Regions from separate parts of the Homo sapiens genome. Here region 2 is linked to region 1. The links come from fine-mapping of genetic effects on plasma protein levels. A gene starts in region 1. The other region holds a variant in brackets. All regions are shown on one strand. Distances are between the middles of the regions.

Region 1 (15,879 bases):
TAAAGAAAACAAACTCCATCAGCTTTTGCCTTTAGGACCTCTTCCTGTGCCTGGTTTACAAGGAAATGGATAAATATTCTGGACAAGACAAATACAGGGCCCTGAACAAAACTTGGAAACCCAGAGACACAGATGAATACAGGTTCTATCACAACATAGGTGTGATCCTGCACACTTTATTTACTTGTTCTCTTGTCTCTTAAAAATGGGGACAGTGGCATTGTCTGCCCTTTCAACCCAAGGATTGAGGAGAAGCAGCCAAGTGCTGATCTGTGGCACCGTGAAAATGGGGTGGGGTTGGAAAAAACTAGAAGAAATAATTACTAGATTCAGATACCACCCTTCAGACAATAGAGCCAGAGTAATGTAATTCTTGGACTAAAAAAAGAATATAAAAAATACATACCTCTCATTCATATAATCATTGGTTTAAAGCAGTCAGGCTGCTTATTGAGACTATTTGTTGACTCATTCATATATTCATCAAAAATGTATTGTATCCAATCTACCATGCTCTACACTTCACAATGAAATACTAGAAGTCTCAATCCTCCTAGGGCATGATGCCAGAGGGTACCGAAACCATCCTATTTGAGGGCATATCGTTTTAGCCTGTACTTAGAAATAATGGATCCAATTCTCAGTAAAATACTTTTGTAAACCTAACCCAGCAACATACAAAAAGGATTATACACATTACCCAAGTGGGATTTATCCTAGGAATGCAAGGTTGGTTTAACAACCAAAAATCAATTAACGTAACATGACAAATGAATAGGATAAAGGACAAAAACCATATGATCACCTCAATAGAGGCAGGAAAAACCTTTGACAAAATTGAACAATCTTTCATGATAAAAACACTGACAAAGTAGGAATAGCAGAGAACTTTTTGACAAAGTGAACCTATGAAGAAACCCATAGCTAATAGCACAGTTAATGGTAAAAAAAAACAAAAAACAAAAAACAAAAAAACAACTTTTTTTGTTAGATCAGGAACAAGACAAAAATGCTCACAACTGCCACTTCTACTTAACATTGGACTAAAGGTTCTAGCCAGAACTATTAAGTAAGAAAAAAATAAAATAAAAGGCATTCAACTCTAAAAGGAGGAATTAAAATGTTGTTTCTTTGCACATGTAAATAGATCTTGTATATAGTATGATCATGTATATAGAAAATCATAAGGAATCCACTGAAAAACTACTAGGACTAAAAAATGAGTTCAGGCCAGGCATGGTGGCTCATGCCTATAATCCCTGCAATATTGGAAGGCCCAGGTGGGTGGATCTCTTGAGATCTCGAATTTGAGACCAGCCTGGGCAACACAGAAAACCCCATCTCTACCAACAATACAAAGTAGCTGGGCATGGTGGTGGGCACCAGTGGTCCCAGCTGCTCAGGAGGCTGAGGTTGGAGGATCGCTTGAGCCCAGAAGGTTGAGGGTGCAGTGGATAAGCCATGATCGCACCACTGCACTACACTGAAAACTACAAAACATGGTGAAAAGAAAGAAGATACAAAGAAATGGAAAGGCATCTATGTTCATGGATTAGAAGACTTCATATTGTTAAGACAGCAGTACTACCCAAATTGATCTACAGGTTCAATATCATTGCTATCAAAACTCTAATTGGCTTTTTTGCAGAAATTGACAGGTTGATTGCAAAATTCATATGAAAATGTAAGGGAACCAGAATAACCAGTAGAAACTTTTAAAGGAACAAAATTGAAAAACTCATACTTCTAGGTTTCAAAATTTACTACAAAGCTACAGTAATCTAGACATTGTGGTAACTGGCATAAGAAGAGACAATGGAGCAGAATTGAGAATCCAGAAGTAAACCCTTATGTACACAGTCAATCAATTTTTGGCAACGGTGGAACACCATTCAATGGGGAAAGAACGGTCATTTCAACAAATGGTGCTGGAACAATTGGATATTCACATGTAAAAGAATGAAACCCTACATGACGCCATACATAAAAATTAACTCAAAATGTATTACTGACCTAAATGTAACAGCCAAAATTATAAAACGCTTGGAAGAAAACACAGGTGTAAGTCTTCTTGCCTTGGTTAGGCTGTAGTTCTCAGATGTGATACCAAAAACACAAACAACAAAAGAAAAAAATTGATAAACTGCTCATCATCAAAACTTTAAAATTCTGAGCTGCAAATCACTCTACCAAGATGAAAAGACAACCCAGAGAATGGCAGAAAATATTTGCAAATCATGTACCTGACAAGGGATTTGGATCTAGTATACAAAGAACTAAAACTCCAACAGAAGTCAAATTATCCAACTAAAATTAGGCAAAGGATCTGAAGACATTTTTTCCAAAGAAGATATACAAATGGCCAATAGCACATGAAAAGATGCTCAAGGTCATTAGTAATTAGGGAAAAGGAAATCAAAACCATGAGATATAACTTCACACCTACTAAGATGGCTATAATCAAAAAGACAGTAACAAATGTTGGTAAGGATGTGGAGAAACTGTAACTTTCATACACTGCTGGTGGGAATGTAAAATGGTCTAACTTCTTTGGAAACTGTTTGGCAACACCATAAAAGGTTAAACATAGAACTACCTACCATATAATCTAGCAATTCCACTACTAAATATATACCTGAGAAATGAAAACATATCTTCACAACAACTTGTACATTAAGTTCAGAGCAGCATTATTCATAAATAGCCCAAAGCAGAAATAACCCAAATGTCCATCAACTGATAAATGGATAAATAAAATGTGGCATATTCATACAGTAGAATATTATTTGGCAATAAAAAGAAATGAACAACTGATACATGCTACAACATGGATGACCCTTGAAAACATTATGCTAACTGAAAGAAGCCAGTCACAAAATGACACATTATGATTCCATTGACATGAAATGTTCTCAATAAGAAAATCTATAGAGACAGAAAAGTTGATTAGTGTTTCATTAAGGTAGAGCCCACTGGTTGAATAGGGTGGGAACAGAGATTGAGGGTCACACAACACTGTGAACACACTGAAAAACAATGAACTGTACACTTTCCATGGGTGAATTTTATAGTATGTGAATTATACATCAATACAGCTGTTCTTTTTAATAATGGATCTAACTGCATATTTTCAGAAAAAATTATTAATGGTCTTCCTAGAACCCAGAGAATTAGGTGCAACCTAAACTGAAAGGCTCTAGAGAGCCTAAAGTCAAAACGGGGAAAGCAAGCTAACTTCTAGCCTATAATGAAGATTTTTACAAAAGGCCAAATTGAGCGATAAGTATGAATAATTAAACTCTGTGCTATTGATTCCTTTGACTTAAACAGATTTTCGCCCACTAAGCATTTAAGATGAGAATCATCTTTAATACTGTAATCCTAAGCAGCTGCTCCAGACTTAAACAACTAGTCAATGGCTAAGATCAAACAGAACAAGGATCTTCACGCCATCTGTAAAGCCAGAGTTAAACAGTTAACAAGGAGTGAACAAAATACCTGGAATAGTAGAGAGTTTGACAGTCTCAGACTCAGAAAAATACAGACATGAATATAAAACTCAGCAAACGTTATTTAATTTAAATTTTTTTTTTTTTGGTTTTCATTTGGAATCTGATGGCAAACCTTCAGGGAAACAGGGTAGCTCTAACGGATTTAGAGACACTGGATACCACGAGAAAACTGTTCTTTTACAATACCACAACTTAAGTCATAACCACTGTCATTCCTTAACTGAAAAATAAAAAACCCTGTATTTATGATGTATGGATTGGTCATTTCAATTCATACAAACTTTTAATCCGCAAAACTGAGGACCTGCAATTTAAGTATAACACCGTTCCGTGAGATATTTCTCTGAATTATCTTTCATGATCAAGCATAAATTTTTGTTTAAAACACTTTTTACTTAAGTAGATTACAGTTTCTCATTATAATCAGTCATTTTATTTGGAATTATAGCAATCCGGGTTTTTTTGCTGTACTAAGACGTAGGGAGTCTCACTTTAGGATTTTATTTGCTTCTTAGACATCATTTATATAATATTCCTTGATTTTTATTAAGGCAAAATTTGCTTTTCTAATATTCACTCGAGTAATATTTTGTGATAAAATCACTAAATTCAGGACAATACTTTCTGTATACTCTTGTATTGGAGTACAGATTTAATTCTATCTTCGCCGGTGCACAAATGTAAAAATATAACCCTTCCTTGAAATGAAAAGAAGTCTCACACCACTTTAAGGTAAGACAAAGGAAACCAAGTCTTATTTGCACAAAATAGTTTACTAAATTTAAAATCCTACTCAACCCCTCCCCGCAAATATCTCTCAAAAAGCTGTCAACATGAGGTCTTTGATTTCAGAGCTGTAGCCATGTCATTAATGGTAAAGAAGGTATATTCTGATTCTGATGTCTCTTCTTTGCAGAAGGGTCTTCTGTGGTATTAACAGAAACCTCAGCAAAGCTTGTGGTATCTCAGGGAGTGAAGCTGTGCTACCTAAAGAAACCCACTGGGTATAAAGTGGGGTGGGGGGTTGGAATGACAGAATGCTATCTAGCTAGACATCCTGAGGCAGATTAAAAAACCTTCCTCTGTACCCTGTCATTTCCTTTCAGCAAGATCCTGTTGATGTTTGCACAATTTAAAAAGTGTATCAAATATCTCAATGAGTAACATAAACGGTCCCTTCGAGTATTATTTATTTTTAATCGTTGATGGAAAAATATCAAAATAGTACCTTTTAAATTTATTTCCTTATCCAATCACAAGTAACACCACCAAACAGTTTTTTTTTTTTTTATCCCTACACTGTCGGGGAAATGCCAGACGTACCTTCCTTCCCTCTTTTTGTTTAAGAAAATGGAAAAAAGAAACTTTTAAAACAGAGCATTAGAACTCAGACACGTTACACACGTCTCCATAAAACTAACTTTAGTCCTGGAGAACTAAGTTCATGAGATATGTTTCCCTAAATGTTATAGCTGCTGTATCTACTATAAACAAAACAAGTCTCATTTGAAACAATTACGCATTTCGGGGCTAGTTATTAAGTATTCAGCGTCTGCCAGGATAAGGCGATCAGCGCTTCTACTCCGAATAACAAACCATAAATCAGTTGACAAGCTTGAAAGCATTCAGTCCTAGTCTGTTCGGAAGCCAAGCGTAAATACAGAAAAACCTGTTGGCATGTTTCTCTTGCTCTCTAAGTTTCGCGTTTTTAAAAACACTGTAATACGCAAATGGCGTTTCCCGTAAGTTTCTGGCTCCGAAATAATTTGGATAAAAAACCACAGCGAGGCATCGCGCACAGAAAAATGGAGCCTGTGCCTTTAAGGTAAAATCGGCTGGATCCCAAAAGGCATTCCTCTTTCACGACAAAGAGTTTGGCGAGCGCTACCTCTGGGGTTTCTCCGAGGGACTTGGCGGGTCCGAGCGGAACCCGACCAGACGACTAACCCTGCCTGCCCCGGGGCCCCGCCGCCAGCCCTGCGCCCGCGCGGCGGGAGCGCATCGCGTGCGCCCCGGACTCACCGCTGCCGGGCTGCGGGGACAGCGTGGACACCGAGGTCTGGCCCATGACTGGGGTCGCAGGGCCAGGTCCAGCGATCAAGCGGCTCCTTTGGTCCTTCGATCATGGGTCCGCTCCCAGCCAGACTTCCAGGCGTTCATGTCCCGGCCTGTGCCGAGCGGCCCGCCGGGTCCCCTCACCTTCTACCCCGCGCGGGTCTCCCAGCCCGGCCGGCCGCAGCCGGCGCGGCGGATCCTGCCCAGCGGATGCCTGTCATTCCTCTATGCAGATTAGCTGGGGTCAGGGGTCACGGGGGAAGAAGGGGGGTGAGGGCGATAGGGAGGGGAGGAGGGGGAAGCGGGGGGAGGGCGCAGGAGCAGGGGGTGGGGGAAGCCCCCAGCCGGCCCCGCCGCACCCGCACCCCCTCAGGGTGGTAGGGAGTTCAGGCTTTCAGACTACTCCTCTTTGACTTAAAAGGTTCAAAGTCAAATGATCCTTACGGGCTACAAGAAAAGGAATTAAAGTATTTAGTCACGGTACTTAATTTAACAAAATTTGTTTCTTAAAAGTTATTTCCTTCCTTACATTCTATTTGCAGTATTGTGGCACTCTCATGTCTTGTGCCCATTTTTTTCTCGTTTTAAAAATTATCTTCCTTTTAACAAATATAATTTTTTAAAAACGGCACTAATGGCCTCAATCAGGCTTGACAACAAATCTAAATGGTAGGTCTACGTGTGAGATCAACAAAATATACTTTTTGCTGTCTCCCACCTAAAACTCTGGAGTGCTGACCTCTCCTTTATTTCAAAAGAATTACTGTGAAATAAAGTGATTAAAATACACAAAAGGGGAAAAAAACTATAACAAACTTGAAAGGTGAATTAAACCCTTCTATAATATCCTGTTAAATCTCAATCTTCTTAAAAATATGAATACAAATAAATATTCTTCATATTTACAGTTAATGATTAATTAGTATAAGTAATCTTCATGCTATATATATATAATGTGTGTATATATATATACAGTATATGGAACATCTGTATATGGTGCATTAGATTGGATGGTGGTTACTGGATGTGTTCATTTTATGAAAATTCATTGAGATGTCTGTAATGATGTGTGCACTTTGCTGAAGGCATATATTTCATTAAAATGTAAAAAATATCAGAAAGTGCAATATATTTAGGTCATTTACCACAGCTTTCATTTTTTAATTTATCCTAGACAATCAACTCTGAACTAACATGAAAATCATTTTTTTCTAAAATTTTTATTATTAAGATCGTGCAGAGCCTTGTTTGATTTTTTTGAAAGGCACTTACTTGTCTGTTTTGTCATGGTTAATTAAGTTGCCCTATGTTTTTTCACACCCAAATAGCCCACCCACCACTGTGAGGAAGATCTTTTCCCTAAAAAAGTGTGATCCATTGTCTTCTTCCCTTTGCCTAATTCACTCTTAAGAAACACTGATTTTTTTTTTTTTAATGAAATTGAGGATTTAACCAAAATGTGAGTTCTAATTAGGACAATAAAATTAATCCTAACTACATTTCCTTATAAATACAAAAATGTGTTTTGGAAACACATCCCACCTGGGGCGCTAAGCGATGAGAGTAAGCAATTATAATGGCTGGCTCCTCCAGCTCTTTGCTTTGAGTTGCCGTAAGAAAAAAACAAACAAACAAAAGTGGTTAAAGGTAAGTTAAGAGGGAGAATGTTTCACTCTTCCTTTTGACAGTCTTTCTGATAAAGGGAGGTCACTGATCAGAGGAAATATACAGTACCTTTTGCACATTCAAAATATGTAACTGTAATAATTTTTAAATACTGATAAAAGTTAAACTTTAAGGTTGCTATCATTTCTTCTTTTCCTTGAGAAACAATAGCATATTTCTATTACTTCTATAAATTCTTATTTCAAAGATCAAGGAGGTGCACTATAGTTCCAGTTTTTCAGGAATTGCTTAATACAGCTATATTTACCTTATTCAAGACCTTTCATGATTTGCTAGTTAATATAATCTTCAGCCTCATCTGGGATTCCTATAATACCCTAACCAGGTTATGCAATTTTCTCTGAAACTCTTCCAGTTCCATTACATTATCCTTGAAGCATGTCAACCAAAACTGCAGGAAGTGTGCACTAAGTTTTCTTTCTAAGAGTGGGACAGTTCTTGTTCTTGGTTTCTAGAGCTTCTGATGGAACTTGGCATTTAAGTGGCCTTTTTATCACAGCTAACAAGTTATACTAATGAACATAGAAAACGTCTACAGAAATCTCTAAATTTCATTTCTAGGTTGTAACGCAAAGGTTAGATATTATCACCTAACAAGAGAATTTTAAGATAATTTTCCCCCAAATTGCCTTACTCTTGCCTTATTAGAACTCACACAGTTTTACTAAGAGTTCTGGGTGTTAATCCCATGGGTTTATAGTTTAACTCTGGAAACATTTAATGTCATCTGAAAGGCATGGACATTTCTCTGTATACTACCTCTCTCTAGGGAATTTATTAAAATGCTAAACAGGATTAGACCCAATACCTAACTCTGAGGAAGCTATCTATTTATAATTCTTCAGCATTTATCCCATTGGTCCCACCCTTTGTTCTCTATTTCTAAACCAATCTCTTATCCAGTGATATCTTGGTAAATGCTTAACTGGTTTGGGCTGGGGGTGAGGAGGCAGGAGGGGGCCTCAGACTGCTTTGTTTACTGTGATGTAAATACTCCTACAATAACCTATTCTACAGGCCTTCAACCAGCTAGCAAAACTGATATCAAACAGCTTGCAAAATTCCTTGAAATGTAACAATTTGGCCCACCAGCCTGTGTGAACTGCCTTCAGCACACCGCTACTTTTCTCTGTTATAATAATGCCGCATCATATCATACCATGGCTGAGTTTGAGGAATAGCTTCTATTTAGCCTTCCTAAAAATATAGACTAATGGCATCTACTGATTTTTTCCATGGAACACTCTAAATATTTTTCAAGCTCTGAAAGAACTACTGTGATTTATTCATTTATTTCCAGAAAGAAACTAAAGAAAGTGAATTAGTGAGATAGAATTTCCCCTTCTGAAAGCCAGTGTGCCTTTATGACACAAAGTTGTACTTATCAGGTTTTCAAGCATTCTACCCTGTAACACAGACTTCACTGGCTTGTCTGATGTGGGAAGTCTTAGACTCACCCACCTGGGGTACCCAAAGTGACACTTGCACTCCTCCTGGATGGAAGCCACTATATCTATTAGGTTAAAGTTAAAGCGGACAAAAGCCTAAACATTGGCAATCTGGACCATTTGTGAGAAAGTTCTTTTCTAGGTCAAAGTCCAAATGGCAGACATACAACTTGGTGCCTTTAGAGAAGATGGTTTACAATTACTACAGTCACCACTACCAAATCCTATAACTTAGGTTACTGCCAGATTTTTCTAGGCAGCCAAATCTAGCCTGGAGCAGGAAGAAGAAGGAACCTTCCTCAGAACACAAATGCCATGAATACTAATCCTGGAGGTCTCTGCCTTGTCCAGATGCTGCCAGCTGTGTGAGGATTCATTTTGAGACACCAGATGTTAGGGGTGGAGGAATTATGATGGGAGGGAAGGGTTAGGCAGAGTCCCAAGAGATGAGATGGTTGATCAGAACAGCAGTGACCTGGGAGGCAACAGTGGTTGATAGTGGCCATATACAAGCAGATGAAGATTACATTAATTTACACCCTTATTTCTAGATTTGACCATAGACACCCTGTGAATTAGTGACATTTCCTTGGCTAATGGGAATTGTAGCAATAGAAAAATTATTTCTTAATGGGAAGGAAATGAATGAAAACTTAGCAGTTTTCCTAATAGTATACTAAAAACGATATGCAAAAGTTGTTTTAACTATTTGGGTAGTTTTTACTAGAAGATCTTCTGGTTTTTAAAAACTTTGTATGTCTTCAAAACTTGGCTACATTTTGTAAGAGTCAGCTTACTTAGAAAAATATAAAAAGCAAATGGGAGCTTTACTAGATAATATAAACTCAGTGAAAACTCTGTATATGTAACTAATGTTTACTTTGTAAAATGTTACTCTATGGTAAAGTTGCAACTAAATGGCTACTATATCTTAGATTTTAACAATTCTGAGAGATGCTGGTTTGAACAGGATAATGCTAACAGATAAAGGAAAACTTTTGTTAAGGAAAGAATTACAACTTTGCATATTCTAGTTATATTAAGCATCAGTAGAAGACCACATTCCACAAGTATTAGAACAGGAAACAAACCTGAAAGACAGGCTTTTCTTTCCTATTGTTCTCATATTTTCATGTGATTTATTTCCTGAGTTTTCCTTCTTCTGCTTGCTCAAGCTAAAAGGATTAACAAAATACCTTGCCTCTGCCTCACCCTGCGTGAGTCTCTGCAGAGGCGGGGTGTGGCTCACGTGTGCTTGCTTAGTGAGTGAGCCCCACAGTTGGAAGATTTATGCTGGAAAATAAAGACCTCAAGGGGTGGTGCTGGAATTTCCTTTTCCAAAGACATTCTCCCTACCCTGGGAGGAAAAGCGTCTGTAATTTTGCTCTACTTCATTTCATAAGCAAAACAAAGTACTCATCCATAGTATTAAAACTCTAAAAACTGCTATAAAATGAATAATCTTTAATTTATTGACCAAAATCTAAAGAGAACAGTCCTTAAAGACATCTTTTATATGACTGCCCAATTTACACAAAATAATTGCTTCCAGTAAGGCCCAAATCTTTGTTTTGTTAACCATCACATCCATCCCTAGAAACTAACAAAATTTGCCTGGCAAATAGAGGGTACTGAATACATAGATGATAAATTAAAAATAAGCATTTATGTTATCTCCTTAATGGTAACTTCCAAGTATGGACAAAAAAAAAAATCTGGGAATACATGTAAAATTTTGGTAATAATATAGAATGTTGACTCCATAGCAAGAGAATATCGAGTCTGTCTGTGACTGTAAATTTTCTTTTGTATGCCCCTCTGAAATAATCATCTACTCATTCACCTAGAATTGACTGAGGACTTCCCATGGGCGTGGTACCTCTAGCACATGGGCATAAGGATAAGTGAGGTATGGACTCTCCTGTGGCGGAGGTCATAGTATGGGTACGGTGGAGGGTGGGTGTTGCAGCCTACAAATACATGATCCTAACAGTGGAGGAAGAGAAGTTTGTTCCTCCAGCTGGGAGTGGTGACTCATGCCTGTAATCCCAGCACTTTGGGAGGCCGAGGTGGGCGGATCACCTGAGGTCAGGAGCTTGAGACCAGCCTGGCCAACATGGTGAAACCCTGTCTCTACTAAAAATACAAAAATTAGCCAGGCGTGGTGGTGCACTCCTGTAATCTCAGCTACTTGGGAGGCTGAGGCCGGAGAATCACTTGAACCTGGGAGGCGGAGGTTGCAATGAGCTGAGGTTGAGCCATTGCATTCCAGCCTGGGCAACAGAGTGAGACTCTGTCTCAAAAAGAAATAAATAAATAAAAATAAAAATAAAAAAGAAGAAGTTTGTTCCTCCAAGTGCTAGGGATGCCCAGTAGGTTAGTACAGAGAAGGCTCTGAACTTTAGCAAATTACTAAATCCACATTTTTGCCACACAGAGGTGCTCATTCATTCTGAAGGTGCCCTAAGATTGTGAAGTGCTTCCTGAATTAAAGAAAGATTAAATTCTAATAGTAGGTGGTCAGAATTAACTGTATTTGTTTGTTTATTGCTTGCAGCTTTTTTTGTTTGTTTTTTGTTTTTGAGACAGCGTCTTGCTCTGTGGCCCAGGCTGGAGTGCAGTGGTATAATCATTGCTTACTGTAGCCTTGAACTCCTGGGCTCAAGCAATCCTCCCACCTCAGCCTCCAGAGTAGCTGGGACTATGGGTGCCTGCCACCATGCCCAGCTAATTATTTGTAATTTTTTTTTTTTTTGTAGAGATAGGGTCTCACTATATTGCCCAGGCTTGCTTGCAGCTTTTTGAAGAATAAGTTATGGACCCTAAAATGTACCCATTTAAAGCAAACAGTTCAATAAGTTTTAATAAACATGTAGTCCAACCAACAGCACACTCAAGTGTCAGAAAACTTTGAGATCCCTAAGGTATTCCATCATGTCCTTTTGCAGTTAATTCCTGTTTCACATCCCTGTACCACCCTTGGCATTAGGGAACTGCCAACCTGCTTTCCATGTCCATACTTTTGATTTATCTAAAATTTCTTACAAATGGAATAATATTATGTACAGTTTTTTTTAATCTGGCTTGTTTCATATGTTTTTGATATTCATCCATGTTGCTCTGTGTATCTGTATTTTGTTCCTTTTTGTTCTAGGTTGCCTTCCATTGTATGGCTATACAAAAGTTTGTTTATCTGTTTACCAGTTAATGGGCATTTGGGATGTAACTGTATTTCACTGTATTCCTGCTCCATGAAAAGACTTTGGGTCTATATTGTGTTACATATATGCTAGTTCTATATTAATAATAACTCATTGATTGGTTCACCACTCAACAAATATTTATTATGCATCTCCTTTTTACCAGTCTTTGTTCTAGGTACTTAGGAGACAGAATTATACAAAATACAAAAACACCTGCACTCATAGAGCTTCCCTTCTAATGGAATGACAGAAAATAAGCAGTAAACATAATAAATCAGTAAACTTTATAACAATTTAGAAGATGAAAAGTGCTATGAAATTCAGAAGAGTAAGAGAGATTGGACTGGCATGTGGTGTTCACAGTTGTCCTCACTGAGAAGATAATGTTTAAGCAAAAACACAAAGGAGGTAATGGAGTTAACCATATGGCTATCTGGGGGAGAGGTGTTCCAAGAAGAAAGACCAGTTAATATAAAGACAGGAGCATGGCATATGTTTGAGGAATCCAGGGGAAATGGTGTGGTTGGAGTACATAGAATAAGAGAGGTAAAGATGAGGAGAAGGAGATTATAACCACATAGGACCTTGCAGTTAACTATAAAGACTTTGGGCCAGGTGCAGTGGTTCAGACCTGTAATCTCAGCACTTTGGGAGGCTGCTGAGGCAGGCGGATCATGATGTCAGGAGTTCAAGACCAGCCTGACCAACGTGGTGGAACCCCATCTCTACTAAAAATACAAAAATTAGCTGGGCATGGTGGCGCATTCCTGTAATCCCAGCTACTCGGGAGGCTGAGGCAGGAGAATTGCTTGAACCTGGAACTGGGAGGTGGAGGTTGCAGTGAGTCGAGATCGTGCCACTGTACTCCAGCCTGGGCTGCAGAGCGAGACTCCATTTCAAAAAAAAAAAAAGGCCTTGGCCTTCTTCTCCTCCAAAGAATCAGAACTCCTCGCCAGCAAGGGAACAAAAATGGATGGAGAATGAGTTTGATGAATTGATAGAAGTAGGCTTCAAAAGGTGGGTAATAAACTCCTCTGAGCTAAAGGAGCATGTTCTAACCCAATGCAAGGAAGCTAAGAACCTGGAAAAAAGGTTAGAGGAATTGCTAACTAGAATCACCAGTTTAGAGAAGAACATAAATGACCTGATGGAGCTCAAAAACACAGCACAAGAACTTCATGAAGATACACAAGTATCAATAGTCGAATTGATCAGGCAGAAGAAAGGATATCAGAGATTGAGGATCAACATAATGAAACAAAGCATGAAGACCAAGATTAGAAAAAAAAGAATAAAAGGGAATGAACAAAGCCTCCAAGAAATATAGGACTATGTGAAAAGACCAAACCTACGTTTGAATGGTCTACCTGAAAGTGACGGGGAGAGTGAAACCAAGTTGGAAAACACTCTTCAGGATATTATCCAGGGGAACTCTCCCAACCTAACAAGACACGCCAACATTCAAATTCGGGAAATACAGAGAACACCACAAAGACACTCCTCGAGAAGAGCAACCCCAAGACACATAATTATCAGATTCACTAGGGTTGAAATGAAGGGAAAATGTTAAGGGCAGCCAGAGAGAAAGGTTGGGTTACCCACAAAAAGAAGCCCATCAGACTAACAGCGGATCTCTCTGCATAAACCCTACAAGCCAGAGGACAGTGGGGGCCAATATTCAACATTCTTAAAAGAATTTTCAACCCAGAATTTCATATCCAACCAAACTAAGCTTCATAAGCAAAGGAGAAATAAAATCCTTTACAGACAAGCAAATGCTGAGAAATATCACTACCAGCCTGCCTTACAAGAGTTCCTGAAGGAAGTACTAAATATGGAAAGGAAAAACTGGTACCAGCCACTGCAAAAACATACCAAATTGTAAAGTCCATCGACACTATGAACAAACTGCATCAACTAACAGGCTATATAACTAGCTAGCATCATAATGACAGGATCAAATTCACACATAACAATATTAACCTTAAATGTAAACAGACTAAATGCCCCAATTAAAAGACACAGATTGGCAAGTTGGATAAAGAGCCAAGACTTATCAGTGTGCAAAGATACACATAGGCTCAAAATAAAGGGATGGAGGAATATTTACCAAGCAAATGGAAAGAAAGAAAAAAAAAAGCAGGGGTTGCAATCCTAGTCTCTGATAAAACAGACTTTAAACCAACAAAGATCAAAAGAGACAAAGAAGGCCATTACATAATGGTAAAGGGATCGATGCAACAAGAAGAATTAACTATCCTAAATATATATGCACAAAATATAGGAGCACCCTGATTTATAAAGCAAGTTCTTAGAGACCTACAAAGAGACTTAGACTCCCATGCAATAATAGTGGGAGACTTTAACACCCCACTGTCAATATTGGACAGATCAACGAGACAGAATATTAACAAGGATATTCAGGACTTGAACTCAGCTCTGGACAAAGCAGACCTAATAGATATCTGCAGAACTCTACACCCCAAATCAGCAGAATATACATTCTTCTCAGCACCACATTGCACCTATTCTAAAATTGACCACATAATTGGAAGTAAAACACTCCTCAGCAAATGTAAAAGAACAGAAATCACAACAAACTGTCTCTCAGAACACAGTGCAATCAAATTAGAACTCAGGATTAAGAAACTTACTCAAAACCGCACAACTACATGGAAACTGAACAACCTGCTCCTGAATGACTACTGGGTAAATAACGAAATTAAGGCAGAAATAAATAAGTTATTTGAAACCAATGAGAAAAAAAGACACAACACACCAGAATCTCTGGGACACAGCTAAAGCAGTGTGTAGAGGGAAATTTATAGCACTAAATGCCTACAGGAGAAAGCAGGAAAGATCTAAAATCGACACCCTAACATCACAATTAAAAGAACTAGAGAAGCAAGAGCAAACAAATTCAAAAGCTAGCAGAAAACAAGAAATAACTAAGACCAGAGCAGAACTGAAGGAGAAAGATAAATGAAAAACCCTTCAAAAAATAAATGAATCCAGGAGCTGGTTTTTTGAAAAGATTAACAAAATAGACCACTACCAGACTAATAAAGAAGAGAAGAGAGAAGAATCAAATAGACACGATAAAAAATGATAAAGGGGATATTACCACTGATCCTACAGAAATACGAACTACTATCAGAGAATACTATAAACACCTCTATCCAAATAAACTAGAAAATCTGGAAGAAATAGATAAATTCCTGTACACATACATCCTCCCAAGACTAAACCAGGAAGAAGTCGAATCCCTGAATAGACCAATAACAAGTTCTGAAATAGAGGCAGTAATTAATAGCCTACCAACCAAAAAACAGCCCAGGACCAGACAGATTCAGAGCCGAATTCTACCAGAGGTACAGAGAGGAGCTGGTACCATTCCTTATGAAATTATTCCAAACAATAGAAAAAGAGGGACTCCTCCCTAACTCATTTTATGAGGCCAACATCATCCTGATACCAAAACCTGGCAGAGACACCACAAAAAAAGAAAATTTCAGGCCAATAGACCTGATGAACATAGATGCAAAAATCCTCAATAAATACTGGCAAACCGAATCCAGCAGCACATCAAAAATCTTATCCACAACGATCAAGTCGGCTGCATCCGTGGGATGCAAGGCTGGTTCAACATACGCAAATCAATAAATGTAATCCATCACATAAACAGAACGAATGACAAAAAACACATGATTATCTCAATAGATGCAGAAGAGGCCTTTGACAAAACATCCCTTCATGCTAAAAATGCTAAATAAACTAGGTGTTGATAAAACGTATCTCAAAATAATAAGAGCTATTTATGATAAACCCACAGCCAATAGCATACTGAATAGAAAAAGCTGGAAGCATTCCCTTTGAAAACCAGCACAAGACAAGGATGCCCTCTCTCACCACTCCTATTCAACATTGTATTGGAAGTTCTGGCCAGGGCAATAAGGCAAGAGAAAGAAATAAAGC
Region 2 (15,879 bases), 24 kb after region 1:
TGTTTAAAAATTGATTTGGTTGAAATACACCAGTGCTAAAGCTAATCAGGAACATTCATTACCTGACAAATCACTGTGTATGGATGAACAAACTGGAAGGGAGTTCTAGTTTCCTCTGCTTTTGGAGGAAGGAAATATTTGACTAACTGAGGTACTACAATAAATGCTTCTTACCATTGGGAGCATGGTGGACAGATGTGAAGGTAGACCCCAGGTAATCCACCTTTGTGTGATCCCCTCCCCCTGAGAGGGCACGTCTGTCTTGCTAGGGGACACTGGCTCTTCACCTGGCTTTAAAGAAGCAAGCTGCCATGTTGTGAGCTGCCACATGGAAAGGACAAGGAACAGAGGGCAACCTCCCACTCACAGCCAGCAAGAAACTGAGCCCTCAGTCTGGCATTCTGCAAGGAATGGCGTGCTGCCCAGTGACCACATGCACTTCCAGGTGTATCCTTCCTCAGTCAAGCCTTGGATGAGACGACATCCCTACTGACACCTTGACTGCAGCTTCATGAGACCCTGACACCCTCAGCAGAGGGTTTTTATACAGCTGTACAGTGAGTTTGTGTCTTAAGCTACGTGTTGCTACAAAACAGTAAAAAAGTTTAAAAAATTTTTAAAGTTTATAAAGTAAAAAAGTTACAATAAGCTAAGGTTAATTTATTATTAGGAAAAGAAATTTTAAATATAAATTTAGTGTAGGCTAAGTGTACAGTGTTTATAAAGTCTATAGTGGTGTAGAATAATATCCAAGGCTTTCACATTCACCCATCACTCACTCACAGACTTACCTAGGGCAACCTCCAGTCCTGCAAGCTCCATTCATGGTAAGTGTCCTATAGAAGTGTGCCATTTTTTATCTTTTTTTTTTTTTTTGAGACAGAATCTTGCTTTGTTGCCCAGGCTGGAGTGCAGTGGCATGATCTCAGCTCACTTCAGCCTCCACCTCCTGGGTTCAAGCGATTCTCCTGCCTCAGCCTCAGAGCAGCTGAGATTATAGGCGCATGCCACCCTGACCGGCTAAGTTTTGTATTTTTAGTAGAGATGAGGTTTCACCATGTTGGTTAGGCTGGTCTCGAACTCTTGACCTCAAGTGATCCTGCCACCTTGGCCTCCCGAAGTGCTGAGATTACAGGCAGAGTCACTGTGCCCAACCCCATTTTTTGTTTGTTTGTTTTTTAATCTTTACACTATAGTTTTGCTATACCTTTTCTATGTTTAGATATATGTTTAGATACACAAATGCTTACCATTGTGTTATAATTGTCTGTAGTATTCAGTGCAGTAACATGCTGCACAGATTTGTAGCTTGGGAGAAATAAGCTATACCATACAGCCTAGGTTGTATAGTAGGCTATTCCATCCAGGTTTGTTAAAATACACTCTATCATGTTTACACAATGACAAAATCACTTAACAACACACCTCAGATTGTATCCCTGTCTTTAAGCAATGCATGGTTGTACTTTATTGAAAAAAATCTGTTGGGAAAAAGAGACTGAGTGCTGTAATTCGTTTTCAAATACTGCACAGGAGAACCTTATCATTAAGGAGGTCAACTTCAGGTTAAGTTTTAAGTTCATATTTAAGTTTCACCTGAATTTCCCTTGTTAATTTGAAGGTGTATTTCTATATTTGTACCCAAATTTATTTTAAAATCACATTTGTTGTTGAAGCTCAGGTTAGTCTGGCAGTTTCTGTAATGTTAAACATACACCTACCCTATGACTCAGAAATTCTACTTGTCATTTATTCAGCAGAAATAAAAACATATATCCATAAAAAGACCAGTTTAGGAATGTTCATAGCAGCTTTGTTCATAATAGCCCCAAACTGGACAGGCCAAACGTCCCTCAACAGAAGAGTGGGTAAATAAATTGTGGTATGTCCATTAATGGAATACTACTCAGCAATAAAACACTGTGATGTGCTGCCTGGACCCCCCCTCAGAAATAAAGGGATTATTTCCCCTGGCTGCTAGGAGTGCTGCTGGGAGACAGCCCTCAGCTGTCAGCTTTTTATAAGGAGAACTTCCCTGCCTGAAAGCTGCAGGCTTGCCCGAGATACCACCTTCCTGTAGAAGGAGCCCACATCCAATGCCTGATCAACACGGGGCAAGCATCAAGGTCCCCACACCCCACCTTGAGATAACTGACAGACAATCTCACGCCAGTACCCCCACTGGGATGCACTGAGGCTGGGGCTGGAGCTGCCTCACAGCTCTATTCCCCAATCTGCTCAATCTGACTTCTTTCCCTGCCTTTCAAAAGACGTGGCTTCTAAGAGAACTCCTTTATCAATGCCCTGCGTGTTCATCTCTGTCTCTTCCCAGGGAATACAACCTGCGAGAAACTACTCATAAAACCAAGAAAATGGATGACCTTCAAAACCATTTTCCTGAGTGTAAGAAACCAGACACAAAAGAGTACATATTCTATGACTGATGAAGTTCTAGGATTGGAAAAACACGTACTGGGGAGAAATCAGATCAGTGTTTGCCTCGGTGGGGACTGACTGGGAAGGGCATGAAGGATCTTTTTTCAGGGGTTGGAAATATTCTACATCTTGATAGGGGTGTGGAGTGCATGGCTGTATGAAATTGACAAAACTCTGAATTGTTCACTGTATGTACATTGTACCACAATTTTTTTTTTTACTTAAATTCTGGGATACATGTGCAGAATGTGCAAGTTTGTTACATAGGTTTACATGTGCCATGGTGATTTGCTGCACCTATCAACCCGTCATCTAGGTTTTAAGCCCTGCATGCATTCGGTATTTGTCTTAATGCTCTCCCTCCCCTTGCCCCCGACCCCCAAACAGGCCCCAGTGTGTGGTGTTCCCCTCCCTGCATCCATGTGTTCTCATTGTTCAACTCCTACTTATGAGTGAGAAGATGCAGTGTGTACCACAATTTTTGAAAAGTAAAAAATAAAAAGTAGCCACATCAAACTTAGTTCAAGTTGAACTTATGGTTGGCCATTCAACATTCATAATATTTAAATTTTCGTGTGGCCAATCAAGCCTATGTTCATTTGAAACCTGGCAGATAGTTTTTTTGAAACTAAGTTTGGGAATTAACATGTCTATTGTGTTCATCTTTTTGCGGATTGCAAAACTAACAGACATGCTTTTTCTGTTTGAGTTATTAATTAAAATGCTTTGCTAATCAGTGATAACTCCAGAGGCTGGTGAAAAATCTTGATATTGCTTCTTCTATGATCACATCTATTCATTAATCAACACACCGGGTGTAATATTTACTCAACTACAATATTCATTCATCTACCTGTATCCTCATCTAGCATTGATGTCTCAGAGAATACTAGATCAGATTATAAAATCATAGACCAAACTTGCCCAACCTGCAGCCTGTGGGACACACACAGCCCAGGATGGCTTTGAATGCAGCCCAAAACAAATACGTAAACTTTCTTAAAACACTATGAGATGTTCTTGCAATTAAAAAAAAATCTCATCCACTATCATTAGTGTTAGTGTATTTTATGTGTGGCCCAAGACAATTCTACTTCCAATGTGGCCCAGGGAAGCCAAAAGATTGGACGCCCCTGTAACTGTTACAGCCAGGAAAGACTTGAGAGATCTCTCAGTTTGCAGACAAGAAAGCTTAGGCTCACAGGAGGTAACTGAGTTGCCAAGGTCAGAGGAAGTCCCTGGTCTGGACAGGAATGGACTGACCCCATATCCCAGGGCATGTCCCACCAGACAACCCTGCTAGAAGTCTCTGCGCCTGTTATTTCCTCTGCAGTTTGGCTTGGAGAAGAAAGTCAATGAGTGTATTTTATCCCACGATTTACCCTTCCCTCCACTGATGCTTCTTTTAAATATTTCCCCCGGTAATCACCTTAGGATAAGAAACTTAGTTCATGGAATAAAGAACTCTTTTTTGATCTTGATAGAGATCTAATTTTTGCCATCAACTAGGAGAAAATAGTGTATCTGCTGCCCGTCTGTTTTCTTCTTTTTCTCACATGGCAATTCGTAGGAAGCAACTTTAGTGAAAACTATATTTGATTCTCAGTAGACAGGTTTGACTCAGAAACTGAGGACATTTTACTAAAAATTCCGAAGAACTTTCATGTGTATGGAGAGATAATAGCAAGTATGTGGTAATAGGTGCAAAGTAAATAACTAAGTCTGAAACGTGAATAGAAAGTAAATCATAAATGCAAACACTACATTGCAGTAATCTTTTTCTCTTTAGCCTTTTCTTACAAAATCTGTGGCTTCCGTACAGAGTTGTAAATCTTTGCTTTGGATGTTTTCTAAGAAACATCTGAGAAAGCAAGTGAAGTCAAAGAAAGTATTAAAAATGCAGAAAAAATCTATAATTAATGACATATTCCATATTCTCTAATCATCTATATTTTGTGATTTTTAAATATCTTCTTTATTGAAATATAATCCACATAGCATACAATTCACCAATTTAAAGTATACAGTGGAATGGTTTTTAGTATATTCATAGAGTTGTGTGACCATCACTACCATCAATTTTATGGTATTGTCATCAACCCAGTAAGAAACCCTATGCCCATTAGCATCACTTCCTGTTCCCCACAATTCCCCCAACCCTAGACAACCACTAATGTACTTTCTTTCTCTAGGAATTTGCCTATTCTGGACATTTCATATAAATAGAATCATACAACGTTCATCCTGGTTTCTTTCACTTAGCATGATGTTTTCTTTTTTTTCTTTTTCTTTTTTTTTTTTTTTTTGAGACGGAGTTTCACTCTTGTTGCTCAGGCTGGAGTGCAGTGGCACGATCTCGGCTCACCGCAACCTCCGCCTCCCAGGTTCAAGCAATTCTCCTACCTCATCCTCCCAAGTAGCTGGGATTACAGGCATGTGCCATCACACCCGGCTAATTTTTTATTTTTAGTAGAGATGGGGTTTCTCCATGTTGGCCAGGCTGGTCTTGAACTCCTGACCTCAGGTGATCCACCCACCTCGGCCTCCCAAAGTGCTGGGATTACAGGCGTGAGCCACAGTGCCCGGCTAGCATGATGTTTTTAAGAGTCGTCCATGTTGTGGCATGTATCAATACTTCATTTAGTTTTTGTTTATTTGTAGAGACAAGGTCTTGCTCTGCAACCTAGGCGGGAGTGTGGTGGCATGATCATTGCTCACTGCAGCCTTGAACTCCTGGGCTTAAGCAGTCCTCCAACCTCAGCCTCCCAAGTCACTAGGACTACAGGCGTGCACCACCATGCTTGGCTAATTTTTTACTTTTTGTAGAGATGGAGTCTTGCTATGTTGCTCAGGCTGGTCTTGAACTCCAGGCCTCGAGTGATCCTCCCACCTCAGTCTCCCAAAGTGCCAAGATTACAGGTGTGAGCCACAGTATCCAGCCTTTATTTTTTTTAATTGGCAAATAATATTCTATTGAGTGGATATAGTATATTTTATTTACGAATTCATCAGTTTGATGAACATTTGGGTTGTTTCCACTTTTAGGCTGTTAAGAATAATGCTGCTCTGCACTTCATAAACAAGTTTCTGGTGAATATATGTTTTCATTTTTTTGGGTATATACCTAGAAGTAGAATTGCTGTTCATATGGTAACTCTATGATTGATTGTTTGAGGAACTGCCAGAGTGTTTTCTAAAGTGACTATATCATTTTAAATTTCCACCATCAATTTCTCCAAATCCTTGCAAACACTTGTTATTACCTGTCTTTCTGATTATAGACATTCCCATGGGTATAAAGTGGTCTCTTGTGGTTTTGATTTGTATTTCCCTGATGGTTAATGATGCTGAGCATCTTTTCATGTGTTTATTAGATATCTGAATATCTTCTTTGGAGAAATGTCTTTTCAAATCCTTTGCCCATTTGAACATTGGAGTATTTGTCTTTTTATTATTGCATTGTAATTGTTCTCTATATAGATACTTCCCTTTTCAGATACAACATTACAAAACTTTCCTCCCATTCTCTGGGTAGTCTTTTCACTTTATAGATGGTGTCCTTTGAGCCACAACATTTTTAGTTTGATGATGTCCAAATTATTATTGTTTCTTTTGTTTTTCGTGCTTTTAGTGTCATATTTTAAAGAAATAATTGCCTAATTCAAGGTCATGAAAATTTACACCTATGTTTTCTTCTAAGCCTGTTATAGTTTTAGCTCTTACATCTAGGTCTTTGATCAATCTTGAGTTAATTTTTTAATATGATGTAAGGTAGAGTTCTCACTTTATTCTTCTTCACATAGATATCTAGTTGCCCTAGCACTGTTTGCTGATAAGACATTTCTTTCCCCATTGAATTGTCTTGGCATCCTTGTTGACAACCAATTTTCTAAAAATGTGAGAGTTTATTTCTGGACTCAATTCTATTCCATTTATTCCATATATAAACTACTCTCCGAAAATAAACTTTGCATGTGGGAAGCTGCAATGAATTCTTTCAGGCCATTAGTAAACTGTGTCTTCAAAGCACCATATCAAAAAGCTTGGAGATTTTTTTCCTTTGCCCATCTCCACAGTCTGTATAAGGTAAGGGGTTTAGCAATAGCAACAGGGAAGTATTAAAGGCAATAAGCTGGAGATTGCAGGCAGGAGTCAGAGCAGCCTTCATTTTACAAGAGTGGAAAAACCAAGTCATGAACTTTGTGACAGCTTGACTAAAATCCAGAGGGAAACTCCAAAGCAGCTCGAGTCTCGATGCACAAATTGCTTCCTGACGTGTCTTGCGACTGGCCTTGTTTCCAGAGGGCCAAAGTTCAATGATTAGGATTACTTCTGAGACACCTGGGGACAGAGGCATCCAGAACAAATGCTCTGGCAGTGAGGCAACCATCACACCGTGTGCCATCAAGTACAATTCTCTTGCCAGTTGCAGCTTGCAAGGGTGAAAGAGAGCGCTGCTGGGAACACCTGGTGCTTTTCTATTGCTTGCCAGGGAGCTTCCAGCCTCAATCCAGCTGGAAATAATGTGAATGTTCCTGAGAAGGTGCTGGGTGCAGTGCCTGCACAGGGACCATGAATCATCCTCCTTAGAGTGGCTGCTACAAAGTGACTGAATTTCATAAAGCTGTGACCCTATTATAGATCACACACACACATGACCAGAGCAGGCGGTCCAGGTGTGACAGCCAAGACTTATCTCCAGGTGGGCATTCCGCCTTATTTCAGCCCCTGGGTGTGAATGTCACTGTTTCTGGTGAAATCTCAGCTCTTCTTGCCTACTCAAGGATGGTACAGGCCACTTAACAACAGCAGCAGGCATTTGCAGAACAGTCGGATTCCCGAAACCCTGAGCTTTTTAATAAGATCTGAAAACTGACCTAGCATAGTGGAAAACAAAAACACTTAAGTGTACTCACAAATATCCACAAGGCATTCACACGTCTCACAGGGAAAAACACAGCGTGCATCACTTTGAAGAGATTCTCATTTAAGTAATGCCAGCTCAAATGTCCATCAGCTAAAATATTCCAGCAGATACAGGGAAAAACAAACAAACAAACAAACAAACAAACA[G/AACAAACAG]CAGCGCAGGTACCTTTGTCTAGCTGATGCAGCCAGGCAGAGTTTCTTTTCTTTGGAAAAACTTCAAAATATTTTATTGGGGATTGTACACTTAATCACTAAACAAAAACCAAAACAACACTCATCTGTGCTTAATAAATGTATTTCAAGAAATGGTATGTATTTAAAGAAATGTATTTCAAGAAATGAAAGCAAGTAGTGGCTTTCAATCCTTTTTGACCAAATATCTTGTGGTTGTACCTAGTAAACGGTTCCCCCATCACCGCCATCATTTTTAGTATAAAGCAGAATCACCAGTGTTTACCGGCCTTTTTTTTTTTTTTTGCTTAAACAACAGAACTTTAATTTCTCAGGCTGGAGGCTAGAAATCCAAGATGAAGGCATCAGTTGATTTGGTTTCTTCTGAGGCCTTTCTTCTGGGTTTGTAGGTGGCTGCCTTTTCTCTATGTCCTCACATGGCCTTTTCTGTGTGAGTGCCTATGTCTGGTGTCTCTGTGTATCCACATTTTCTTTTATATATATATTATATATTTTTTTATTTTAAATTTGTGGGTACATGTGCAGGATATGCAGGTTTGTTACATAGGTAAGTGTATGCCATGGTGGTTTGCTGTACAGATCAACCCCATCACCTAGATATTAAGCCCAGCATCTATTAGCTATTCTTCCTGACGCTCTCCCTCCCTGCACCCTCCCACCCCCTAACAGGCCCCAGTGTGTGTTGTTTCGCTGCCATGTGTCCATGTGTTCTCATCATTCAGCTCCCACTTATAAGTGAGAACATGCGGTGTTTGATTTTTGTTCCTGCATTAGTTTGCTGAGGATAATGGCTTCCAGCTCCATCATGTCTCTGCAAAGGACTTTATCTCATTCCTTTTTATGGCTGCATAGTATTCCACGGTGTATATATACCACATTTTCTTTATCCAGTCTATCATTGATGGGCATTTAGGTTGATTCCATGTCTTTGCTTTTGTGGATAGTGTTGCAATGAACATACACATGCATGTATCTTTATAACAGAATGGTTTACATTTCTTTGGGTATACACCCAGTAATGAGATTGTTGGGTCGAATGGTATTTCTGCTCCTAGGTCTTTGAGCAATCACCACACTGTCTTCCACAAAGGTTGAACTAATTCACACTCCCACCAAGAGTGTAAGAGTGTTCCTTTTTCTCCACAACATTGCCAGCATCTGTTGCTTTTTGACTTTTTAATAATAGCTATCCTGACTGGCATGAGATGGCATCTCAATGTGGTTTCGGTTTGCATTTTTCTAATGATCAGTGATGTTGAGCTTTTTTTTCATATGTTTGTTGGCTGCATATATATCTTTTTTAAAAAAAGTGTCTGTTCATGTCCTTTGCCCACTTTTTAATGGGGTTGTTTGTTTTTTTTGGTAAATTTGTTTAAGTTCCTTGTATTAATAGATGCTGGATATTAGACCTTTGTCAGATGGATAGATTGCAAACATTTTCTCCCATTCTGTAGGTTGTCTGTTCATTCTGATGACAGTTTTTTTTGTTGTTCAGAAGCTCTTTAGTTTGATTAGATTCCATTTGCCAATTTTTGCATTTGTTGCAATTGATTTTGGTGTTTTCGTCATGAAATCTTTGCCCATGCCTATGTTCTAAATGGTATTGCCTAGACTTTCTTCTAGGATTTTTATAGTTTTGGGTTTTACACTTAAGTCTTTAATCCATCTTGAGTTGATTTTTCTATAAGATGTAAGGAAGGACTCCAGTTTCAATTTTCTGCGTATGGCTAGCCTGTTCTCCCAGCACCATTTATTAAATAGGGAATCCTTTCCCCATTGTTTGTTTTTGTCAGGTTTGTTGAAGATCAGATGATTATAGGTGTGTGGTCTTAGTTCTGGCTTCTCTATTCTGTTCCATTGGTTTATGTGTCTGTTCTTGCACCAGTACCATGCTATTTTTGTTACTGTAGTTTTGTTTGAAGTTGGGTAGGGTGATGCCTCCAGCTTTGTTCTTTTTGCTTAGGATTGCCTCGGCTATTTGGGCTCTTTTTTGGTTCCACATGAATTTTAACATAGATTTTTCTAATTCTGTGAAGATTGTCGATGGCAGTTTAATGGAAATAGCATTGAATCTATAAATCCCTCTGAGCAGTATGGCCACTTCCATGATATTGATCCTTCCTATCCATGAGCATGGAATGTTCTTCCATTTTTTGGTGTCATCTCTGATTTCTCTGAGCAGTGGTTTGTAGTTCTCCTTGAAGAGGTCCTTCACTTCCCTTGTTAGCTGTATTCCTAGGTATTTTATTTTTTTGTGGCCATTGTGAATGGTAGTTCATTCATGATTTGGCTCTCAGCTTGCCTGTTGTTGATGTAAAGGAATGCTAATAATTTTTGTACATTGATTGTGTATCCTGAGACTTTGCTGAAGTTGCTTATCAGCTTAAGAAGTTTTTGGGCTGAGACAATGGAGTTTTCTAGATATGGGATCATGTCATCTGCAAACAAAGATATTTGACTTCCTCTTCCTGTTTGGATACCCTTTATTTCTTTCTCTTGCCTGATTGCCCTGACCAGAACTTCCAATACTGTGTTGAATAGGAGTGGTGAGAGAGGACATCCTTGTCTTGTGCTGGTTTTCAGGTGAATGCTTCCAGCTTTTCCCATTCAGTATGATATTGGCTGTGGGTTTGTCATATATGGTGCTTATTATTTTGAGTTATGTTCCTTCAATACCTAGTTTATTAAGAGTTTCTAACATGAAGCGATGTTGAATTTTATTGAAGGCCTTTTCTGCATCTATTGAGATAATCATGTGGTTTTTTTGTCTTTAGTTCTGTTTATGTGATGAATCACATTTATTGATTTGTATATGTTGAACCAACCTTGCATCCTGAGGATGAAGCCTACTGAATCATGGTGAATAAGCTTTTTGATGTGCTGCTGGATTTGGTTTGCCAGTATTTTGTTGAGGATTTTTGCATTGGTGTTTCATTAAGGATATTGGCATGAAGTTTTCTTTTTTTGTTGTATCTCTGCCAGGTTTTGGTATCAGGATGATGCTGGCCTCATAGAATTAGTTAGTGTTTACCAGCATTTTAAAGCCAAGGCAAAAAACCTTCTTCTTGTACCTCTTAAATTTTCTCTGATTTGTGCTGTTTCACACCCTCCTTATCCACTCCATCCCTAACCCTTGTGCTTGAATGTCACTGTTTACAAACAGACACACACAAAAATGTGGCATCCCTTTCAGAGGAAAAGCCGTGGGCTTTGGTTGATGGTTGGTCAAGCACAGGTCATACAGAAGCCATGTGGAAAGGCAAAATCTAATTGACTTTATTCCACAGAAGCATTTTGAGTGTATGCAGACACACACAGTCATGCACATAGACACACAGACACACACAGAGACACACAGAGACATACATAGAAACAGTCATACACATAGACACACAGACACACACAAACATACATAGACATAGACATACACATAGACCCAGACAGACACACACACACACACAAACATACATAGACACATATGCATAGACACACACATGGACACATACACAGACACACACTTGTATACACACAGATATACACATAGACATACACAGACACACACAGAGACACATGCCCACACACACACAGAGACACACACACGTGCACATCCTGGGGAGGAGAAGCAGTTGTAGGAATGCAGACAGAGTAGTCTGCCTGTCTGAATTACACTTTCCCCTATGCTAGCATGCCACATTTACAGTATCAGTGCTTCAGAGCACTTTAAACCTCCCGGGCTCTTCATTCCTTCCTACCTCAGAGGGCAGCCACAGTAATGATAGGATTTCCTTCCACTCCACCTTAGCAAGCTTCTCTGTCTTACCTGACTCAACCCACCCATCGCAGGCTTCCCTTTCTATCAGCCATGCTTTGTTTGGTCTGTTCCTCCTCGTCCCCCCCTCCCAGGGACTCCCAGTGCAGAGACAGTCAGATCCATTTTCTACCCCTTTGCCCTTTGAATTTAATTCTTTTGAGGAATCTATTTAGAACTATGATGAACGCTTAGTAAATAATAAGGCAAAGTGATGACTAATTGAGCTCCCAGGGAAATGCAGATGGGCTGCAATATTTTTATCTCAAAACTTCCACCATGTTTCCTAGGCCCTGCCCTTCTCAGACAATTTGCAGTAGACACATGGAAGAAGTTGCAGAAAACACTGCGGTCCTTAACAGGATGCTGTCTGTATTCTTGCACTATGCTGCTATGAGTTTTGTTCCTGCCACCAACGAGATGATAAATCCCCTGAATTCTCAAAACAGACCCCAAATGTCATCACCCACCAGTTCCCAACTGTTGTGGCTCTGTCGCAGCCATACATCTCTCTCGGGTCACGGCAGGATCCTACCTGCTTCCCTTATTTCCACTGCGGCCACACAGCCAGGGGCAACTTCCCCAAGCCCAACCCTTCACTGGTTTCTTATCACAGAAGTCAAAAGAAAGTCCTAAATCCTTACCAGGGCCTACAACGCCTCCCTGAGTTGGCTGTGGCTAGCTCTGTGCCCATTTCCCCTTATGCTCTCCCTTACCTGCCCTTTCCAGCCACACTGGCTTTTTTTGTGGTTCTCAGACACAAGCCTATTCCCAGCACAGGGGGCTGTGCACTTGCTGTTCTTTCTGTACAGGTGCTCTTCTCCCAAGATATCTGCAAGGTTTCCTCCTCCCTCACTTCAACCAAGGTTTCCTTTCAGCTAACAAATCCTCACGGAGGCCTTCCCTGACTCCCGCGTAAAGTCAAAACCCCATGATTCTCTGTCTCTCTATTTTCTCTTCTTTCCCGCCCCCATCTCACTTAACTAAATTAAGCACTGAGAAATGTATCTGTCTCAATGGAATGCAAGCCCATGAGGGCAACGACCTAGGCTGTCCTCTTCACCATGGATAGTATACCTAGACTACACTGGGAGCTGGCACACTGTAGGTGTGAATGAATAAACACATGTGAAATGGTTTCCATTTACTGCAGAATTTTGAGAGGAGAAAAGGTCACTGGTTAACAGGAGGGTTTCAGGGTCAGGTTGTTTTGATTTTGAATCTTGTTATTACTCATTAGCCACGTGACTTTAGCAAGCTTTTTAGCTTTCAGAGTCTTGGTTTCCTCATCTGCAAAATAGGACTAATATTATCTACATCACAGAAAGGGATGCAAAACACATATTATAATAGATAATACTTAGTACCTTTGCAATAAGTTGTAATATTTCCAATTATCAATGTAGGTCAACAGCAACCCGGCACCATAAAATGTTTTATATCTTAATGGAGATCTAGCATAATTCTGGTTTGTGCTTTTTACCCCTTAGAAAAAAATGTAACTGCTGACAGCAAGGTGAAGACTTAATCTTTAGAGCCTTGCTAAAAATACATTTTAAAATTCTTTAGAAGCAAGGCTTACCTCACTGGGCACTTAAGAAATGTTGATTATAGAGAATCATCGTGATCAGAAGACTGTTATGTTAGAACAACAAACATAACTAAGGATGAGAAAACGTTCTCTGCTATTCAGACACTAAGCTCTAGCATAATAAGCAGGCTGAGCATAACTTCATGTCAAGAGAGAACAAGGCTTTTCTTACATACTTTTTCAGGCTCTTCAGAGAGTAGTGCTTGGGGGAAATTCCATGAGAAACATGTGGAGCAGTCTCAAATCCCCCTATATATTTGGTTAAACTTAAAGCTGAGGTCAGAGTACACCTGCCCTTCTTGACATTTCAAGAAAAGTGGAATTCTAATTATCTTCTCTATTTGCTCCATGTACCTAGGAAAGGGAACTCTAGTTCAATAATAAATCATGCAAAATGGAGCACCTTTTTTTCAGTTATATTTGAAGGATCAGGTTATGTCTAAGTAGTCATCATATTATGTTAAAATACATGTATGTGTTTGCCTGTGTCTGCCAAATAAAGTCAATTAGATTTTACAGGTCTGTCACTCATACTATGGATATTTGAGAGCTACTGAATTTAGTTATTTTAAAGTCAATAAACTTTAAGGAGTTATGCTATGATATTAAGGTTAGATAAATGCTTGTTCTATTTAGGAGTTTTAAAGTGGGATAGAGTTTTTCAGTTTAAAAATAATCCCAATTACTGACATAGACATAGACACTCTAACAATGAAAATAAAACCCTAGATTTGGGGCTCTTTGTGGGCCCCATTTGAGCCTAATTTATACCTCTCTTGTACCCAGCCTATGACCTCAGACATAAGAGATGCTCATTGAATGCCTGTTTAAGGACTGGAGAATATACATTTTGATGTAAAATATTAAAAAAAGTATTCTATTGTTTCTGACACGTTTATCTCTGCATAATTATTCTTCTCCAGTTTTTTTAAATCTATGCTTCATCTTTTCTGATAGACTATTGTTATATATTTTGAGGTAATCAATCCTTTCAATCATTTCTTTATAAATTTTGATATTAGTGTCATATTATGGAATGACTTCCACACTCTAGTGATACGAATACACACTTTAAAAAATATTTTCTTCTGGTACTTTTAAGTGCTTTTAGATGTAAATCTTTAATTCAGCTGTAATTTAGTTTTGTGTATTCTATGAGGAAGGGACATACAGTCTCTTTCAATTTTTTAAGGAATAATGTCAACATGACTTACTAAACAATTTATTTATTCTCCATTGCTTTAAAGAGTAACACAAAGAACATTACATTCTCAAGAATGGAAAAGACAGAGAACTATAAATACCAGAACATTCTTAATATAGTCACTTAAATTTTTCTCTTCCTATGAGCAATTCACCTATCAATAATACAACCTTGCCAAACACTTTAGCGCCACACAACTTTCTTTTAGCTTGGGAATGCTGGACCTACAGAATAAGAAACAGCATTTTCCAACACTGAGTGTGGCTTGAAATAAACAAGCTATATCTCCTGTTATAAAAACCAAATAACATATGATGTTTCATTTCATTCCTGAGTTACTTCACTTAGAATAATAGTCTCCAAACTCAACCAGGTCACTGCGAATGCCATTAACTCACTCCTTTTCATGGCTGAGTAGTATTCCATCATCTATATATATTCATATATATTCATATATATATATATTACAGTTTCTTTTCCACTCGTTGATTGATGGGCATTTGGGCTGGCTCCATATTTCTGGAATTGTGAATTGTGTTGTTATAAACATCTGTGTGCAAGTATCTTTTTTGTATAACGACTTCTTTTCCTCTGGGTAGATGCCCAGTAGTGGGTTGCTGGATCAAATAGTAGATCTACTTTTAGTTCTTTAAGGAATCTCCACACTGTTTTCCATAGTTGTATGTTCTCACTCATAAGTGGGAACTAACTTATGAAGATGCAAAGGCATAAGAATGACACAATTGACTTTGGGGACTCAGGGTGGGTGGGAAGGGGGTGAGGGATAAAAGACTACAAATGGGGTGCAGTGTATACTGCTCAGGTGATGGGTGCACCAAAATTTCACAAATCACCACTAAAGAACTTACTCATGTAACCAAACACCACCTGTTCCCCAATAGCCTACAGACATAAAATTAAAAATATCAAAAAACAGAAAAAACAAGCAAATGAAAAATAAACATTACTTAAAAGGCAAAAAAAAAAAACAAACCCTAAGATGCCATGATTGATTTTAAGATACACCATTGTTTTACATACCACTAAGAAAAACAAAACATGGTTGCCAATTATATTTGTAAGAAACCATTGATTATAATACATATCCTGACTTTAAAGCTGATAAAATGTGAAAAGTATTACATCTTAGAGTCAATGAATTATGCTAAAAAAAAAGCCTAAAATATACATGAGTCCAAATAAATGTCATTAAGAGTCATTTGAGTCTAACTGTGATATAATAATACAGGTTCATAACTGTACTTTTTTTTTTTTTTTTTTGAGATGGAGTCCCACTCTGTCACCTAGGCTGCAGTGCAGTGGTGCGATCTCGGCTCACTGCAAGCTCCGCCTCCCGGGTTCACCCCATTCTCCTGCCTCAGCCTCCTGAGTAGCTGGGACTACAAGCGCCCGCCACCATGCCCGGCTCATTCTTTTGTATTTTTAGTAGAGATGGGGTTTCACCGTGTTAGCCAGGATGGTCTCGATCTCCTGACCTTGTGTTCCACCCGCCTTAGCCTGTACTATTATGTAAAATTTCAGTGTATTTGAAGCATTCTTTGGCAAATAAGCTGAATTTAACTTTCAATACAATGGAAAAAGTGTGATTATATAATAGCTTGCCTTTCACCTCGCTTCTGGTGGTTTGCTGGCAATAGCTTAAAATGACTATACATTGGTTCCTTAAAATTGTATTTTATTTAGAGTTCTGTTGAGTTACTTTTTTAA

Which allele goes with the higher level. Alleles are on the strand shown, and positions count from the first base shown. The strength of an association depends on the size of the effect and on how common the allele is.
As copies of AACAAACAG replace G in region 2, the plasma level of the protein whose gene starts at base 5,779 in region 1 goes down (weak association).

Evidence for each region. PIP is the chance, under the fine-mapping model, that this variant and not a neighbour inherited with it causes the effect. Protein levels are from antibody-based Olink assays in UK Biobank. Linkage for the fine-mapping came from a reference panel and not from the study's own genotypes, which makes the PIPs less certain.
Region 2: its variant is fine-mapped to the plasma level of the PHACTR2 protein (UK Biobank, PIP above 0.99).

What each region holds. Positions count from the first base shown.
Region 1 is chr6:143,667,865-143,683,743 of GRCh38, reverse strand. PHACTR2 (phosphatase and actin regulator 2) reads right to left here and starts at 5,779. Exons shown (of 13, transcript NM_001100164.2): 1 at 5,535-5,779. The coding sequence starts at 5,580. RefSeq lists a silencer at 5,538-5,837 and an enhancer at 5,587-6,435.
Region 2 is chr6:143,644,021-143,659,899 of GRCh38, reverse strand. It overlaps a transcript of PHACTR2 not described here. Among named protein-coding and RNA genes, the nearest start is that of PHACTR2, 26 kb to the left of the region's middle. The variant G/AACAAACAG (reference allele first, on the strand shown) is at 7,510.